Homo sapiens: one gene and its partner. Each later gene encodes a partner of the first gene's protein in a complex. Each region holds a gene or a part of one and is shown on either strand. Other genes may lie near its edges. A codon is read from its position in the direction of its gene.

Evidence for each region.
Region 2: the proteins of STX17 (region 1) and SNAP29 are in contact, whole or in part, in a crystal structure (PDB 4WY4), measured with the Homo sapiens proteins. Residues at the interface, in NP_060389.2 of Homo sapiens: Glu170, Trp172, Glu173, Leu175, Glu176, Leu179, Ile180, Ser183, Val186, Thr187, Phe189, Ser190, Val193, Asn194, Gln196, Gln197, Ile200, Ile203, Ala204, Val207, Asn208, Ala210, Ala211, Val214, Glu215, Thr218, Leu221, Gly222, Ala224, Ala225; in NP_004773.1 of Homo sapiens: Arg52 (codon at 2,743), Thr56 (codon at 2,731), Ser59 (codon at 2,722), Thr60 (codon at 2,719), Arg62 (codon at 2,713), Ser63 (codon at 2,710), Leu66 (codon at 2,701), Glu69 (codon at 2,692), Ser70 (codon at 2,689), Val73 (codon at 2,680), Gly74 (codon at 2,677), Ser77 (codon at 2,668), Glu80, Leu81, Gln84, Val87, Leu88, Thr91, Met94, Val95, Lys97, Met98, Asp101, Leu102, Ile104, Ser105, His108, Ile109, Ser111, Ile112.

What each region holds. Positions count from the first base shown.
Region 1 is NC_000009.12:99,900,960-99,910,832, reverse strand, and holds the start of STX17 (syntaxin-17), read right to left. Parts: upstream 4,180-9,873; 5' UTR 4,127-4,179; exon of another isoform or gene 3,630-4,126; intron 1-3,629. UniProt on the Homo sapiens protein: SNAREs, soluble N-ethylmaleimide-sensitive factor-attachment protein receptors, are essential proteins for fusion of cellular membranes.
Region 2 is NC_000022.11:20,854,445-20,862,006, reverse strand, and holds the start of SNAP29 (synaptosomal-associated protein 29), read right to left. Parts: upstream 3,001-7,562; 5' UTR 2,897-3,000; coding exon 2,660-2,896; intron 1-2,659. Other genes in the region: PI4KA (phosphatidylinositol 4-kinase alpha), read left to right, coding at 3,282-3,437. UniProt on the Homo sapiens protein: SNAREs, soluble N-ethylmaleimide-sensitive factor-attachment protein receptors, are essential proteins for fusion of cellular membranes.

The DNA of each region.
Region 1 (9,873 bases):
CAGGAGGGGTGAAGAGAAGTTGATTAATGGGTACAAACATACAGTTAGATAGAAGGAATACATTATTCATGTTTAATAACACAGTGAGGTAGCTATAGTTAACAATAATTTATTGCATATTTCAAAATAGCTAGAAGATCTGAAGTGCTCCTAACACAAAGAAATAATAAATGTTTGACATGATATATATCCCAAATACCCTGATTTGATCATTACACATTGTATGTATGTATCAAAACATCACATGTATCCTATAAATATGTAAAATTATTGTGTATTAATTGAAAAAAGTAACATAAAAATAAAAAATAAATATCTAGAAATAGAATTATTAGGTAGACAGATTTTTCAAGGTTTTTAAAACATATATATAGCCATATCCCACAAAAGGTTATGCCTATTATGTTCCTACCAGAAACATAACACAATGTCCATTTATCCATATTCCAAGCAATATACTTAGTATTATCATTCTTAGACATGTCATTGGTGAAAAAAATGATGTCTCATTATTGCTTTACTTTGCATTCCTTAAATTACTAACAGGGTGGATTTATCAGCCATTTGCATTTCTTTTTTTTTTTTCTTTTTTTTTGTTTTGAGACGGAGTCTCACTCTTTTGCCCAGGCTGGAGTGAAGTGGTGCGATCTCAGCTCACTGCAACCTCCGCCCCTTAGGTTCAAGTGACTCTCCTGCCTCAGCCTCCCAAGTAGCTGGGATTACAGGCACGTGCCACCACGCCCAGCTAATTTTTGTATTTTTAGTAGAGACGGGGTTTCACCATGTTGGCCAGGCTGGTCTCGAACTCCCGACCTCAGGTGATCCACCTGCCTCGGCCTCCCAAAGTGCTAGGATTACAAGTGTGAGGCACCATGCCCAGCTGCATTTCTTCTTTTTTTAATTTTTAATTTTTGTGGGTATATATTAGTAGTAGGTATATATTTATGGGATATTTGAGTTATTTTGATACAGGCATACAATGTGTAATAATCACATTAGGGTAAATGAGGTATCCATCACCTCAAGCATTTATTCTTTGTGTTGCAAACAATCCAGTTATACTCTTTTAGTTATTTTTAAATATACAATTGAATTATTATAGTCACCCTGTTCGGCTATCAAGTACTATATTTTATTCATCCTCTATCACTATTTTTTTGTACTCATTGCATTTCTTCTTTCATGAATTGCCTGTTCATGTCATATGCATCTGTTTTTACTACAGGGGATGTCTTTCTCTTATTAACTCATAAAAGGCTATTACATGTTAAATGTATCAATTATTTGTCTAACATTAACATTTCCCAATCTATCACACTGCCTCTTTTCTTTTCTTCTATACCACAAAGAGATTATCTTTATATCTACCATCATTCCTATCAAAATGTTTTTTGAACACACCTGTTGTTCAATAGATGCTGCCTGAACTAAAATATTTCTTCACACGTCCCTTCTATACAATTGCTAATCCTATCACTCTAGTCAAATAGCACAATATGCATAGCCATGATAATGGAGCTTCAATTAGTCTACCTTTAGACTCTTTCCCTCCAAAATGGAATATAAACTATAAAAACATAAACTGTATTATAAACGAATAGCATAACCACACTGAAAGAAGTGAGGAAGAAAAATTATCTAAGCCACTTTAGAAAACAATATTTTAACTGAATACTATAAGCCTAGAGACAAAAAGAACTACACTGTACTCTATTTAGTAAATGTGTTTCTCACAGGAACATAGGTCAGAAATCCTGAAATTACTTTATGTGTATACTAGGACTGAAGAAATAAGAAAATATTTTGTAGAATGCCAAGAGTCAGATTTCTCACTGTCAGATAAAAAGTTAAAAATAAGGGACAAAACTAGAATGAACCCTGTGGTGTTAGACTAGAAGCAAAGCTACTGGGATGAACTTTTGTTTTTAAAAAGTATATGGATAGACAAATACAGAAATAAACATAGATCTTTGTGTATGCATGGGTATGCATATGTATAGACTGGTGTCTTCTGTGGGGCCCTGGAAGCAATGTTACCCCAGTAGCAATGAGCATCCCTAGAGCACAGATCTTTGTGTTTAAATACTATTCTCCAAAAAAAGAAACTACGGGTCGTTGGAGAAGTGGCTGACTATCAGGGCTGAGGCACAGAAAACACAAGATGAGCCTGGGGCATCCTATGGTACCAGAAAATTAGGAAGTTCCAAAAAAGAAAAAAAAGGATGGAAGCATGCTGAAAAGCTACAGAAAGCAACCTGAAAGAAAACTCCCAATGATCAAAGCTGGAACAATTTCAAACATAAAATAACACAAGTGTAGGATAACAACCAATAGAAAAACATCTAAGTCCACATGGATACAAATAAATAACGGAATACAAATAAACAAATGGGAAATGGGCAGCTCATCCTTACAGAATAATTTCAATTAATAAAGAAATGAGGAAAGTAGAAAATCATCATTAGAACACCATAGTCATAATAATTGCTGAAGGCAAGATCCACCAATGGATGTGAAATTTAGCAAGGGAAAGTCTGAGGAGAAACAGGATATGCGTACGGTTTAAAAGCTCCCCCCCAAGATGTCAATTATAAGGAGAAAAATAAGACCTTTACATTGGAGAATCCCAGCAGACACTCTCTACCAAGTGATCAAGATTAACCTCACGAGCAATAAGTCATATATATCAGCTATGCTCATATGATGAACTGAGAAGGGCACACACACTTTTGTGTTCTTAACAAAAATGTATAACCTTAATCTAATCATGAGAGAACACTGGACAAACCCCATTTGAGGGGCACTCTACAAAATAACTGACCAGCATTCTTCAAAAGTGTAAAGATCAGAAAGAGTATAAAGACAGAAAAAGACTATCAGTGTAAAGACAGGAAAAGACAGAGGAACTGTCACAGACTGGAGGAGACCAAGGACCCAAGACAACTAACTGCAATGTCGGGTCTTAGAGTGGATCCTAGAATAGAAAAAGGACATTAATACAGGAAAAAAAATCACAAGTTAGTAATTCAGTTAATAGTATTATACTAATATTAACTTCTTGCTTTTGATAATTGCGCTATGGTATGTAAAAAATTATTAATGGAGGCAATAGGGAACTCTGTATTACTTTTGAAACTTTTCTGTAATTTTAAAATTATTTCAAAATAAAAAAGTTTTTTAGTATAAGAGGATGTTTCACGTAAGACAGGTAAAAACATTTAGAAGTCAAAGAACTGCCATCGTATTCACTGCATTAATACTTGGAGAGAGGGGTGCCAGGACTGTGCCAGGTGCTTTACAAACTTTATCATGTAGTGCTTACAACTAATATGAGATGGGTACCATAATACTCATGTTTCCCAGTAAGTTACTTAGGAGGTTATTAATAAGTGAAAGACCCCATTTCTCAGGAAACCCAGCCCCCAAAAGTGACGAACACCTTCCATCGGCCCAGAGCTCCCACTTTTCAGGATACTAGTGGCGCCCGATTTCTTCCGGCCCGCCGCTTAATGTTTCTGACTTATGGAAGAGATACCGAATTTGGAGAGAAAAGTCAAAGTAAAGTCTCCTCTCTGAACCTCGGTTAGCTAAAAGGAGGGAGCCAAGGTGTGGGACCTTCTGCCAACCACCTCTGGGTTTGGCGAGCAGGGGCTTCCGGCCTCTCGCTCCCAGTCCTCCGAGCCTCACTACCATCGAGCGTCGCGTCATTCCTCGCAGTGTCACCCACAGCACACCTGGGCCACACACACCAAACGCCCCCACCAGCGAACGGATGCGCGGGTCTGTCCCGGGACCCAGACGCCAGCGACCCTGGCGACCCGGGGCCTACAGCGCGCCAGAGACAGGACGCGCGCCGGAAACTTTTCCACCCCGCGACCCCGGGAGGCCGTCCTGCTCGCATCGTCTGCGGCCTCCCTATACCAGCTTCCAATAAAGCTTCCAAAAACGAAACCAAGCGAGGCTCCGCCACTTCTGAAAAACAGGAGGAGCCACCATGGCGCTCGCACTTCGGATCCAATGCCCTACTTGCCGCCCAGCGCCTCTTGCGCGCGCCACACGGGCGCCAGGCCCACCAAGCCTGTGAGGGCCCGACGCCCCCAAAGGCGGCCTCCAGAGAGCCCCTTACCTCCCGCCGGGGCGCTCGAGGCCGGTCGGTGGGCACGGCGCAGGCGCAGGAGCGACGGGGCGGGGCATCACGAGGGGTGGGCAGGGTTGGGCCCCGCCCCCGCCCCCGCCCCCGCCCCGCAGGGCCCCCAGGCCGGGCGCTGGGGGCGCACAGGTGAGTACAAATGCGGACGCTGCTGAGAACAGCGAAAGCCTTTTTCAAAAGTGATATTGATTTACGTTATGGGGTTGTGACTCGAGCCAAGAGGAGAGAGACGCACAAACGCTCTTTAGGTCTGCTTGTTGTGTTTAAGACAATTCATGCTTGTATGGCCGACTGCATTTCGCAGTTTTCCTGTCCGTTTTCCTCTGTTCTTCCTAGAATTTTATTTGCGGGTTGGGCATGTATTCTTAGCTCTGTTTTGAAACTGAAGCTCAGAAAGGTGGTGCCTCCCCATCCCGTCCCCAAAAGCCCTGTGAAGTGGACAGGGCAGGAGTGCCATCTTAATTGCAACAGGTGTAAAAATTAAAGCTCAGCAAATTGTGGTTTCCTCCAAAAACTGGTGGAGGGCTTAAGGCAAACGTCTTTATCCCGATTTTATAGATTATGACTCTGGGGTTTAACAAAGAGTTTTAAGTGACTCACTCCAGTTCAGCCAGCTTATGGCAGAGCTGGAACTCCAACTGGGTGTCCTAATTTCCTTCCCAAGTTATTCCAGTTAGACCAGCTGCAACCACATGAACAAGCAGGTGGCCGGCTTTGAAGCCTTGTCCAAGTCACAGGTCCTCCTCTCTTCATGGCCTAACTTCCAGATCCAGCCCTTTTAAAAAGATGTCTGTGAATATTCAGATGACGTGCTTAGAATGTATTCACTAATGGCATTGTCTCAGAAGTGATCAGGATGTTCAAACCACAGTTAAGGAAACTGAGTTCTTAGGGTCTTCCAGTAGAGTAGGAGGTAAACAGGGAAGATTAGGGGCCTGTAGATCCTTTAAAAAGCCTTGAAAGACAATTTCTAAAACAAAGCACCAAATCTACCAAGCAATTTGGATTTTCTTTGGGGACATAATGTATACTGATATTTGTTTTACAATGAGCTCCAGAATGTATTTATCAAATTTTGATTCTAAGGAGAAAAATTAAAGTATTAGGCAATACTGTGAGAAAATGTTTTTTATGCAAGGATCAGTGAAATAAGATCTTTTGAAATAAAAGATCATTTGTGTTAAGTTCTGAAAAAGCTTCCTCAGGTACAAAATCAGGAGGTGTGGTACTCAAAGATTCTAAATTTGGACCTGGACTTCTAAGTTGTTATATGTATGTTTGCTGTAAGTTAGGTGTGTCAAAGTAGTAGGATAAACATTTTTTTTTTTTTTTTTTTTTTAGACAGAGTCTTGCTCTTTCGCCCAGGCTGGAGTGCAGTGGCATGATCTCAGCTCACTGCAACCTCCACCTCCCAGATTCAAGCGATTATCCTGTGTCAGCCTCCTGAGTAGCTGGGACTACAGGCGTGTGCCAACATGCCCGGCTAATTTTTTGTATTTTTAATAGAGACAGAGTTTCACCATGTTAGCCAGGATGGTCTTGATCTCCTGACCTCGTGATCCGCCCGCCTCGGCCTCCCAAAGTACTGGGATTACAGGTGTGAGCCACCATGCCCGACCAAAACCTTTTAATCTAACTGTTGGTTAGCTTGATTTATAATCTTTAAATATTCAAACATATGGTGTGTGGACCTCTTTTGTGTACTCTAGGTCATCAAGTTGTTAGGGGCAGGCCTGCTACTACTGGCCGACATTTTCCTGAAGTCCTAACTGAACCCAGCAAGTCCAAACAAAACATTAAGTGTATATGTTGGAAAGAAAATTAAAAAAAATTCTTAGGGTGTTATGATTGATTGCTTTCTTGGAAAATCCATGGAATAAACTGAAACTAATTCAATAAGATGGCTATAAAATACCTCTCCTAAACAACAATCATCAATTTTAAAATGTAATGAGAAGAAGACTGGGCGTGATGGCTCATGCCTATAATCTCAGCACTTTGGGAGGCCAATGAGGGAGGATTGCTTGAGGCTAGAAATTCAAGACCAACCTGGGCAAAATAGTGAGACCCCATTTCTAAAAAAAACAAAAAAAACGTAGCTGGGTATGGTGGCATGTACCTATAATCCCAGCTACTCAGGAGGCTGAAACAGGAGGATCAGTTGAGCCCAGGAGTTTGAGGCTGGAATGAACTATGATCCCACCAGCCTGCACTCCAGCCTGCAGAAAAGACTGACACCCTGTCTCAAAAAAAAAAAAAAAAAAAAAAATTGAAATGTACTGGGAGGAAGATTACATTCAAAAATGACAAAAATCAAGTTTGTGTTTATAAGGAATTACAAGACCTATTTGAAGAATTGAGAATAATAGCTAGATGAGGGATAGGGGTGGAAGGAAGGATCACAAAGGGGCATAAGGAAACTTTGGGAGTGATAGAAATGTTCATTATCTTGATTGTGGTAATAGCTGCATGGACGTATATATATGTCAAAACTTACCAAATTGTACACTGTAAATATGTTTATGTATAAGTGCTTATTGTATGTGAATTATACCTAAATAAAGCCATGTAAAAAGGGAGGGGGGAAGAAGTAGCTTTTTATTTGATTGCATGTGATGTGTAAAGCACTTGGTTAGGCGCTTTACATGCAATATGTTATTTAATACTGATGACAACCCATGAAGTAGGTATTACAATCACCCCCTTCATACAAACTAGGAAATTGAGGCTTAGAGAGTAACTTGACCAAGGTCCAAGTCTCATATACTACATAACAGGAGTAAGACTCAAATCTTACGTAACAGTATTTATACTTTAACCTGACTTCCATATTTCCATATAAGATACAAGTAAAGACTTGACTATGTGGAAAAGTAATACAGTCAATATTGTAAAGTTGTCCATTTCCACCAAACTAACTTAAAAATTTATCAAAATCCCATTATGATTTTTCTCTTTCTTTTTCTTTCTTTCTTGTTTTTCTTTCTTTTCTTTCTTTTTTCCTTCCTTCCTTCCCTTCCTTCCCTTTCTTTTCCTTTCCTTTCTTATTTCCTTCCTTCCTTCCCTTTTTTCCTTTCCTTTCTTATTTCCTTCCTTCCTTTTCCTTTCCTTTCTTATTTCCTTCCCTCCCTTCCTTCCTTCCTTCGTGTTTTGTTTTGAGATAGAATCTTGCTTTGTCACCCAGACTAGAGTGCAATGGGGGTGATCATGGTTCACTGCAGCCTTGACCTCCTCCTGCCTCAGCTTCCCAAGAAGCTGGAACCACAGGTGTATGCCACTATGCTGGGCTAATTTTATTTTTCTAGAAATTGGGACTCCCTGTGTTGCCCAGTCTAGTCTCCAATTCCTGAGCTCAAGTGATCCTCCTACCTCAGCCTCCCAAAGTGCTAGGATTACAGGTGTGTGCCACCACACCAGGCCCCCTTTATGATTTCTATAATAAAACATTTTAAAAAATCCAAATTGATTTTGCAACTATTACTCTTTCTTCTTAGAATGCCATTTTTTGCCTGCTTTCCCCCATCTCTTTCCCCCCACCCCAGAGTAAAGAAATTACTCTTTATTCTGCTGGACTCAAAAGTCATCTCACCTAGGAAGCTTCTCCCACTGATATGGTTTGGCTCTGTGTCCCCACCCAAATCTCATCTTGAATTGTACTTCCATAATTCCTACATGTTGTGGGAAGGACCTGGTGGGATATAATTTGAATCATGGGAGATAATTTGAATCATGGGGGCGATTTCCCCCATACTGTTCTCATGGTAGTAAATAAGTCTCAAGAGATCTGATGGTTTTATCAGGGGTTTCCACACTTTTGCATCTTCCTCATTTTCTCTTGCTGCTGCCATGTAAGAAGTGCCTTTCACCTCCCGCCATGACTCTGAGGCCTCCCCAGCCATGTGGAACTGTAAGTCCAAATACAGTTCTTCTGTATTTCTTCCCAGTCTTGGGTATGTCTTTATCAGCAGCATGAAAATGGACTAATACAGTAAATTGGTACCAGTAGAGTGGGGCGTTGCTGAAAAGGTACCCAAAAATGTGGAAGCAACTTTGGAACTGGTTATCAGGCAGAGGTTGGAACAGTTTGGAGGGCTCGGAAGAAGACAGGAAAGTGTGGGAAAGTTTGGAGCCTCCTAGAGACTTGTTGAATGACTTTGACAAAAATGCTGATCGTGATATTAACAATAAGGTCCAGGCTGAGGTGGTCTCAGATAGAGATGAGGAACTTGTTGGGAACTGGAGCAAAAGTGACTCTCGTTATATTTTAGCAGAGACTGCCAGCATTTTGCCCCTGCCCTGGAGATTTGTGGAGCTTTGAACTTGAGAGAGATGATTTAGGGTATCTGGTGGAAGAAATTTCTAAACAGCAAAGTATTCAAGAGGTGTCTTGGGTGCTGTTAAAGGTATTCAGTTTTATCAGGGAAGCAGAGCATAATAGTTTGGAAAATTTGTAGCCTGACAATGTGACAGAAAAGAAAATCCCATTTTCAGAGGAGAAAGTCAAGCTGTCTGCAGAAATTTGCATAAGTAATGAGGAGCCAAATGTTAATCGCCAAGACAATGGGGAAAATGTTTCCAGGGCATGTGAGAGGTCTTCACAGCAGCTCTTCCCATCACAGGCCTGGAGGCCTTGGAGGAAAATATGGTTTCATGGGCTGGACCAAGGGTCCTCGTGCGTGTACAGCCTAGGAACTTGGTGCCCTGTGTCTCAGCTGCTCCAGCTGTGGCTGAAAGGGGCCAATGTGGAGCTTGGGCTGTGGTTTCAGAGGGTGCAAGCCCCAAGCCTTGGCAGCTTCCACGTGGTTTTGAGCCTGCAAGTGCACAGAAGTAAAGAATTGGGGTTTGGGAACCTCCACCTAGATTTCAGAGGATGTATGGAAATGCCTGGATGCCCAGGCAAAAGTTTGCTGCAGGGGTGGGGTCCTCATGGAGAACCTCTGCTAAGGCCGTACAGAAAGGAAATGTGGGGTCAGAGCCCCCACACAGAGATGCTACTGGGGCACTACCTAGTGGAGCTGTGAGAAGAGGGCCACCGTCCTCTAGTCCTCTAGACCCCAGAATGGTAGATTCACTGATACCTTGCACTGTGCACCTGGAAAAGCCACAGACACTCAACACCAGCCCGTGAAAGCAGCCAGGAGGGGTGGTATACCCTGCAAAGCCACAGGGATGGAGCTGCCCAAGACAATGGAACCTACCTCTTGCCTCAGCATGACCTGGATATGAGACGTGGAGTCAAAGGATATCATTTTGAAGCTGTAGAATTTGACTGCTTTCTGTTACAGGGCACGTGCCCTGTAACCCCTTTGTTTTGGCCAATTTCTCCCATTTGTAACAGCTGCATTTACCTAATACCTGTACCCCATTGTATCTAGAAAGTAACTAGCTTGCTTTTGATTTCACAGATTCATAGGCAGAAGAGACTTGCCTTGTCTCAGATGAGACTTTGGACTGTGGACTTTTGGGTTAATGCTAAAATGAGTTAAGACTTTGGGGGATTGTTGGGAAGGCATAATTGCTTTTGAAATGTGAGGACATGAGATTCGGAGGGTCCAAGGGCTGAATGATATGGTTTGGCTCTGTGTCCCCACCCAAATATCATCTTGAATTATACTCCCGTAATTCCCACGTGTTGTGGGAGGGACCTGCTGGGAGATAATTTGAATCATGGGGGCAGTTTCCTCCATACTGTTCTCGTAGTAGTGAATAAGTCTCGTGAGATC
Region 2 (7,562 bases), on another chromosome or scaffold:
CCTAAGGTCAGGCGTTTGAGACCAGCCTGCCCAACATGGCGAAACCTGTCTCTACTAAAAATACAAAAATCAGAGGCCAGGTGTGGTCGCTCACGCCTGTAATCCCAACACTTTGGGAGGCCAAGGCAGGTGGATCATGAGGTCAGGAGTTCAAGACCAGCCGGACCAACACAGTGAAACCCCGTCTCTACTAAAAATACAAAAATTAGCTGGGCATGGCGGCGGGTGCCTGTAAGCCCAGCTACTCAGGAGGTTGAGGCAGGAGAATCGCTTGACCTGGGAGGCAGAGGTAGCAGTGAGCTGAGATCGCGCCACTGAACTCTAGCCTGGGAGACAGAGCAAGACTCCGTCTCAAAAACAAAAAACACCAAAAAAACAAAAACAAAAACAAAAACAAAAAAATTAGCCAGGTGTTGTAGCAGGTGCCTCTAATCCCAGCTACTTGGGAGGTTGAGGCAGGAGAATCATTTGAACTGGGGAGGTGGAGGTTGCAGTGAGCCGAGATCACACCATCGCACTCCAGCCTGGGTGACAGAGTAAGACTTTGTCTCAAACAAAACAAAAATAAAAAACCAACAGTTAAACACAGGGAGGTGGGCTAGGTGCAGTGGCTCACGCCTATAATCCCAGGACTTTGGGAGGCCGAGGTGGTGGATCACGAGGTCAAGAGATCGAGACCATCCTGGCCAACATGGCAAAACCCCAACTCTATTAATACCAAAATTAGCTGGGTGTGGTAGTGCACGCCTTAGTCCCAGCTACTCAGGAGGCTGAGGCAGGAGAATCACTTGAACCCAGGAGGCGGAGGCTGTAGTGAGCCAAGTTGGTGCCACTGCACTCCAGTCTGGTGACAGAGCGAGAATCTGTCTCAAAAAAAAAAAAAAAAAACCACAGGGAGGTGGATCAATGAGGGATACATGAACAGAGAGAGGTGGGGAAGGGAATTAACCCAAGAAAACAGCAAGGGGAAATGATAGCGTGTTGCTCTGTCGCCCAAGCTGGAGTGCAGTGGTATGAACATGGCTCACTGCAACCTTGACATCCTGGGCTCAAGCGGTCCTCCTGCCTCAGCCTCCTCAGTAGCTGCACTCACATGTGTGTGCCACCATGCCTGGCTAATTTTTCAAATTTTGTAGAGACGCAGTTACCCCTGCTGGTCTCAAACTCCTGGGCTAAAATGATCTGCCTACCTCAGCCTTACAAATTGTTGGGATTACAGAAGTACAACCGCGCCTGGCTTATACATTTTTTTAAACCTTTTTTTTTCTCTGTCCAAACAAAACTGTTTCATTAGCAGGCTGAAGAGAGACTGTGGTGTACAATAAAGAATCATTCTCGACCGGTATGGTGGCTCACGCCTGTAATCCCAGCCCTTTGGGAGGCCAAAGCGGGCGGACTGCCTGAGGTCAGGAGTTCCAGACCAGCCTGGCCAACGGGGCAAAACCCTGTCTCCACTACAAATACAAAAAAAATTAGCCGGGTGTGGCGGCGCACCTGTAGTCCCAGCTACTCGGGAGGCTGAGGCAGGAGAATCGTCTGAATCCCGGAGGCGGAAGTTGCAGTGAGCCCAGATCATGCCACTGTACCCAAGCAAGGGCGACAGAGCGAGATTCCATCTCAAAAAAAAAAAAAAAAGAAAAAGAAAAAGACCCTCCAGGATCTCGGTCTGTTGCCCATGCTGGAGTGCAGCAGCACGATCTCAGCTAACTGCAACCTCTGCCTCCCGGGTACAAGCGATTCTCCTACCTCAGCCTCCTGAGTAGCTGCGACTACAGGCGCACCGCCACACCCGGCTAGTTTTTTTTTTTTTTTAATTTTAGTGGAGACAGGGTTTCACCATGTTGCCCAGGCGGGTCTCGAACTCCTGAGCTCAGGCGATCCGACGCCTAGGCCTCCCAAAGTGCTGGGATTACAGGCGTGAGTCACTGCGCTCGGCCAGAATAATTGTTATTGAAGGTACTACTCTCTGAAATCTAAGGATGGGAAGAACTGATGAAGATGAGTTGGAGCAACAAACTCTTAACCCGCACACTATTTGTCTAGGATTTGGGAAGTAAAGGTAAGACCCTGGACTCAATCAAACCCAGGCTTTGGTCAACTAGGCAGCTGTCTGGGCTGAAGGGACTTCAATACCTCTATTGGTTGGTTAGGTGGAGATGTCAATGATGCGGGAAGAACTCGTGGACCACCTGCCCTGATGCTTCAGGGTATCACCTGACACTCGCAGGCACATAGTCCTCTCTTTCTGGCTCACTCCGGAAGGAATGGCCAAAACCCTGTGCCAGATTTTGCACAGGAAATAATGTCGAAGAAACGGACTCTCCATTTCCCAAACCTAGGACCTGCTGTTCAGAATTTTTACTCACCTGGACAGAAAATAATCTGGCGTTTCCCCGTGAGCTAGGCGTAAGAAAAAAAAAATCAACGAAGCAGACTAATAGCTAAGGAAGATTTCTGGGGTAAACTGCCCTCTTCAAGTACTCCAGATGCACATACCTTTACATAGTTAACAGATTGTTACCACCATCGAGTCACTAAGGTGCAAGAATCTATGCTAGGCAACTTGAGAATTCTCAAAAGATTGTGAGCAAAACATTTCTCGTCTCCGTTTGACAGCACAGAGACCGGCGAGTCCACACCAGCCCTGCCCCAGGCTCACCTCGGAAGAGGCGACCCCAACCTTCTCGGACTCGTACATGAGGGCCAGGGACCTGCTGGTGCTGGCGGCCGTGGCCTCAGCCCTGCGGAGGACCTCCTGCCGCAAGTACTGCTGCCTGTCCGCGGGCGCGTCGGGCCCGTCGGGGAGGTCTCGGGCGTCCCTCCAAGGGGCCGGCCGGGCGCCTTCGTCCTCCCCGTCGTCGTCGAACGGATTGTAGCTTTTAGGGTAAGCTGACATGGTGCCGGCGCGGCTCTCGGTCTGGGAAACAGAAGGAGGAGCCCCACTGCCGCCGCCGTCCAGGGCCTCGCCCCGCCCGCCGACCCCGCGGTCGTCGCGCGAACTCCTTCCGCGCGTCGCGCGCAGGTGGCCCCGCCCTCGGAGCCGACCATCGCGCAGGTCGGCTGGGGGGGGCCCACATCCGGCGCGCGCAACCGCAGCCTACTGTCCATCCCCTCTCTCCCCTGCAGCGGTGGGCCCGCCCCGCAGCCACGCCCTATCTAGTGTCAGCAACTGAGAGGTCACGTGGCGGGAAAGCCGGATGCACCTACGCCTGCGCCCTGAGGTCGGGCGCTCGCGGGCCAGGAGCGGGGAGCCGGCGGGCAGCGCCGCGGCTCGTGAGGTGATGGCGGCGGCCCCGGCCCGGGGAGGCGGAGGCGGAGGCGGAGGCGGCGGCGGCTGCTCCGGCTCCGGCTCCAGCGCCTCGCGGGGCTTCTATTTCAACACGGTCCTGTCACTGGCCCGCTCCCTGGCGGTGCAGAGACCAGCATCCTTGGAGAAGGTAACGTCGGCGGGCTGGGCCGCGGGCTGACAGGAGGAGGGGCTGGGGTGACGAAGCGTGGAGGCGGGACGAGGGTCTGTGGGAGGCCGAGGCTGGGCTCGCCGGCAGCCTGTGCGGGAGGGGGCGCCTGAGCGGAGGGATCTAGCGGGGGAAGGAGGCCCTAGTGGGAGGGGCTGGTGAAGAGAGAGGGACCGTGGGGGAAGGGTCGGCGGGGCCTGCAGGGCCGCTGCAGGTGGGTGGTTGTGGGATGGGGGTGGGGGATGTGAGCTGCTGGCCCAGGGAGCATCTTGTGACATCGCGGAGGTGGAGGCTGGATCGTGGGCGGCTGTGCGGAGCAGTGGGATGAGCCGAGGACCAGGGGTCAAGACCTGGGGTTCTGCTTCCGATTTCACCTGCTTTTTATTCCGCGACCTTGGGAAGATGGCTTTCTTGTAAAATGGGGATGCTTTTATCTGCTTTGCCGGCTTCACCGGACTGTGGTGACCAGGAGACGAAACACTGTCTTGAAAGTGCTTTGTGACTGTAAACCAACTGCGCAGTGTTATTCTACGAGGCTGGGGGCGTTAGGTTGGGTAAAAGATTGTGCGTTTGCAGAAGGGACAGTGGCAGGGAAAGGAGAGTGAACTGTCAGTGGGCAGAGAAGTGAACTTGGAATTGCTTCAGAAGAGAAAGGTGAAGTCATGCCAGAGCAATCCTCATCTTGGGAGAAAGGTGAAAGGCAACTCAGTGGTGTGCCTTGAGATCTGGAAAGAGACAGATTTTAGAGTGGGACCTGAATTTGTTCCCTGCACTGGCACTTACTTACCATGTCCTCTTGGGTAAATTTAACTCTTAGAGCCTCTGTATCCTTATCTGTAAAATGAGGTTGTTCTTGAGAATTAAATGAGTTCTAGCATAAAGCATCTTGCACAGGTCAAGGCACAGAGTGGGTGAGCAGTAAATGTCAACTTTCTTTGCCCACCCGTGTGCGATGAGACTCAGCACAGTGTTTAGCTCTGAAAGGATGGAATTATTTTCCCACTCAACTTTTTGGCACATGGAGAGAGGATGTTTTCCGACAAGATAAGACAGTGGTGACCGGAGACCAGCCTGCTGCAGTTGGGAGTGGTTTTGTGGCTGTCTGCTGATGGATGAAGCTGAAAGGCTGTTTTAGGCACTTTTGGCAGAGTGACCTGGTCCTTGGCCTTGTCGGTTCTCATATTTGATTTTATCATGCACCTTCGGGGTGAGAAGGTCCCGGCAGATTGGTGCTAACCTGACTTCTAGCTAAAGAGGGAGTACAATGCAATGGAAAGGACATGAGTTTGGAAAATGGAACCTCTGAATTTAAATCCTGTATCACTTGCTTTCACTAGTGTGACTCTAGACAGGTCAGTTCCCTTCTCTGATACTTTGCTATCTTCTGTCAAATACAAGGTAGTACTTCATAGGAGTATTGTGAAGAGCAACAAAAAGGCACGTGGGTACCTAATGTATGAGCACTGTTATCATTAGATAGTCTGACTAATGGAGTGTAGTGCTGTTTTATTGAATCAAACTCATGCTAGCTAGTCAGCACATTCGCTTCTTAGCAGGAGAGCCAACAAATATATCTTATGACTGATTGCTGGATTCTGGGAGGAGAGAGAAGAGAATGCAGTGAATTGGATGATCTTTAAGAAGCTGGTCCTGCAGCTCCAGCAGTGGTAGCACCCTTTCCACTCAGTAACTCAGAAAAGGGCACCTTGAGCTCAATTTGCTTCTTCAGCCATGTTCACTAGTCACGAGAACATTCTGTAATTGCAACATTCTTAGCTTTGTAGTAATAACTGCTTCAGTTGTCAAGATTATATTTTATGATGGGGCACGGTGGCTCATGCCTGTAATCCCAGCACTTTGGGAGGCTGAGACAGGCAGATCACTTGAGGTCGGAGTTTGAGACCAGCCTGGCCAACATGGTGAAACCCTGTCTCTGCTAAAAACCCAACATTAGCCAGGTGTGGTGGCACGTGCCTCTAATCCCAGCTACTTGGGAGGCTGAGGCAGGAGAATCGCTTGAACCTGAGAGGCAGAGGTTGCAGTGAGCCAAGATTGCGCCATTGCACTTCAGCCTGGGTGACAAGAGCAAAACTGTCTCAAAAAAAAAAAAAAAAGAAAAAGATTATATTTTACAAGGAACACAGCCATAGCCACAGGTTGGCAGCTCCCTAATGCCACTTACTTTAGGAAGTACTTCAGTCTCATTGGCAACATTTACCAATCACTTTTTTGGTTTTTTTGAGAGGGAGTCTCGCTCTGTTGCCCAGGCTGGAGTGCAGTGGTGAGATCTCGGCTCACTGCAACCTCTGCCTCTCAGTTTCAAGCTATTTTTCCACTGTAGCCTCCTGAGTAGCTGGGACTACAGGCGTGTGCCACCACCCCGGGCAAATTTTTTAGTATTTAGTAGAGACGGGGTTTAGTATTTAGTATTTAGTGGAGACGGGGTTTCACCCTATTGGCCAGGCTGGTCTTGAACTCCTGACTTCAAGTAATCCACCCGCCTTGGTCTCCCAAAGTGCCGGGATTACAGGCATGAGCCACTGTGCCTAGCTATTACTAATCACTTCTGTGAAGAAGAGTGAATAGAGCAGCACTGGGGCTGCTGTTTTTACAAGAGCCTGCTTACAAAGTTGGCCTTTGGCTGGCATCTGGGAAATAAGCACTTGAATGCTTTCCTCAATCCTGTAACTATTAGTAATAAAGATGGTTCACTATGCCTAGATCCTTTTTACAAACTATGATTTATGTTGAATACCTGCTTTCCTTCTGGGAATCTGATGGCTAGGCTGGTGGTGCATAAATTAAAAACTTAGGGTGCTGATTCTCTAATGGACTTTCCTGGGCACAAACTGCACACATGTATTGAATATTTTGCTGCTGTAGCAAGGAGCAAGCTTGATGTATATCCTCACAGGAGGGAGAGAACATAAGGAAGCCTGTGCATGGGTTTCTACAGGCAGCCCTGACATGCTTTTAGTGACACTTGAGGTCCTTTCCTATTGCTGATATCCATTCACTGTAAAAAATTTAGCCATGAGTACAACTATATACATGTGGGCAGTCTGGGGACCCCTGAAGCACCTTATTTCATAGAGGAGGCTTCTGTAAGTGGCTGACCCCATTAAATATATGTGAATTCCTCTCATCCTTATCTAAGATCTTGCGACTTGATTATGCTAGGGATCATTGTTAATATGTAGTCCCTGGCACATGTATACATATGTAACAAACCTGCATGTTGTGCACATGTACCCTTGAACTTAAAGTATAATAAAAATATATATATATAAAATATGTAGTCCTATAATATGTGTTTTACTACATTCCTCCTTTTGAAGCAATTGACAAAAAGCCCTTAGCATTCCCAAGGAAAAGTTTCTTGTTCTTTTTTTTTTTTTTTTGAGACAGTTTCACTCTTGTTGCCCAGGCTGGAGTGCAGTGGCATGATCTCGGTTCACTGCAACCTCCACCTCCCGGGTTCAAGCGATTCTCCTGCCTCAGTCTCCTGAGTAGCTGGGACTACAGGCACCTGCCACCACACCCAGCTAATTTTTGTATTTTTAGTAGAGATGGGGTTTCGCCGTGTTGGCCAGGCTGGTCTCAAACTCCTGACCTCAGGTGATCCGCCCACCTCGGCCTCCCAAAGTGCCAGGATTGCAGGCGTGAGCCACCACGCCCGGCCAAGTTTCTTGTTCTTAAGAGTAAAGGAATTTTAGAGTACGCACCTGAGATAATAAAGATGGAGACTTATAGGGGGAGATGAGTATTTAAAACCCAATCCCTCCCCTTCTCTCTTCCCTCTTCCCCTTCTCTTTGCTTCTATTTTTTTCTCTTCTTTCTTCCTGAGAGATTGGAGGACTGCGTGGGGCTTGATCTAGATAGGGTTGACCTGGCGAAGGCTAAGTTTGCAGAACCAGACCTCACATCTCAGCTCAGACATTGGTAACTCAGGCAGCCCTGACATGGTTTTAGTGACACTTGAGGTACATTAATGACATAACCTTCCCTACCTTTGTCTCTCTACATGCCACAGTTGTGTTTACTTACTCTAGTCACTCACTCTAATCCCAGTCCATGAAACCAAGCCTATTACTGCTCTGTGGACTT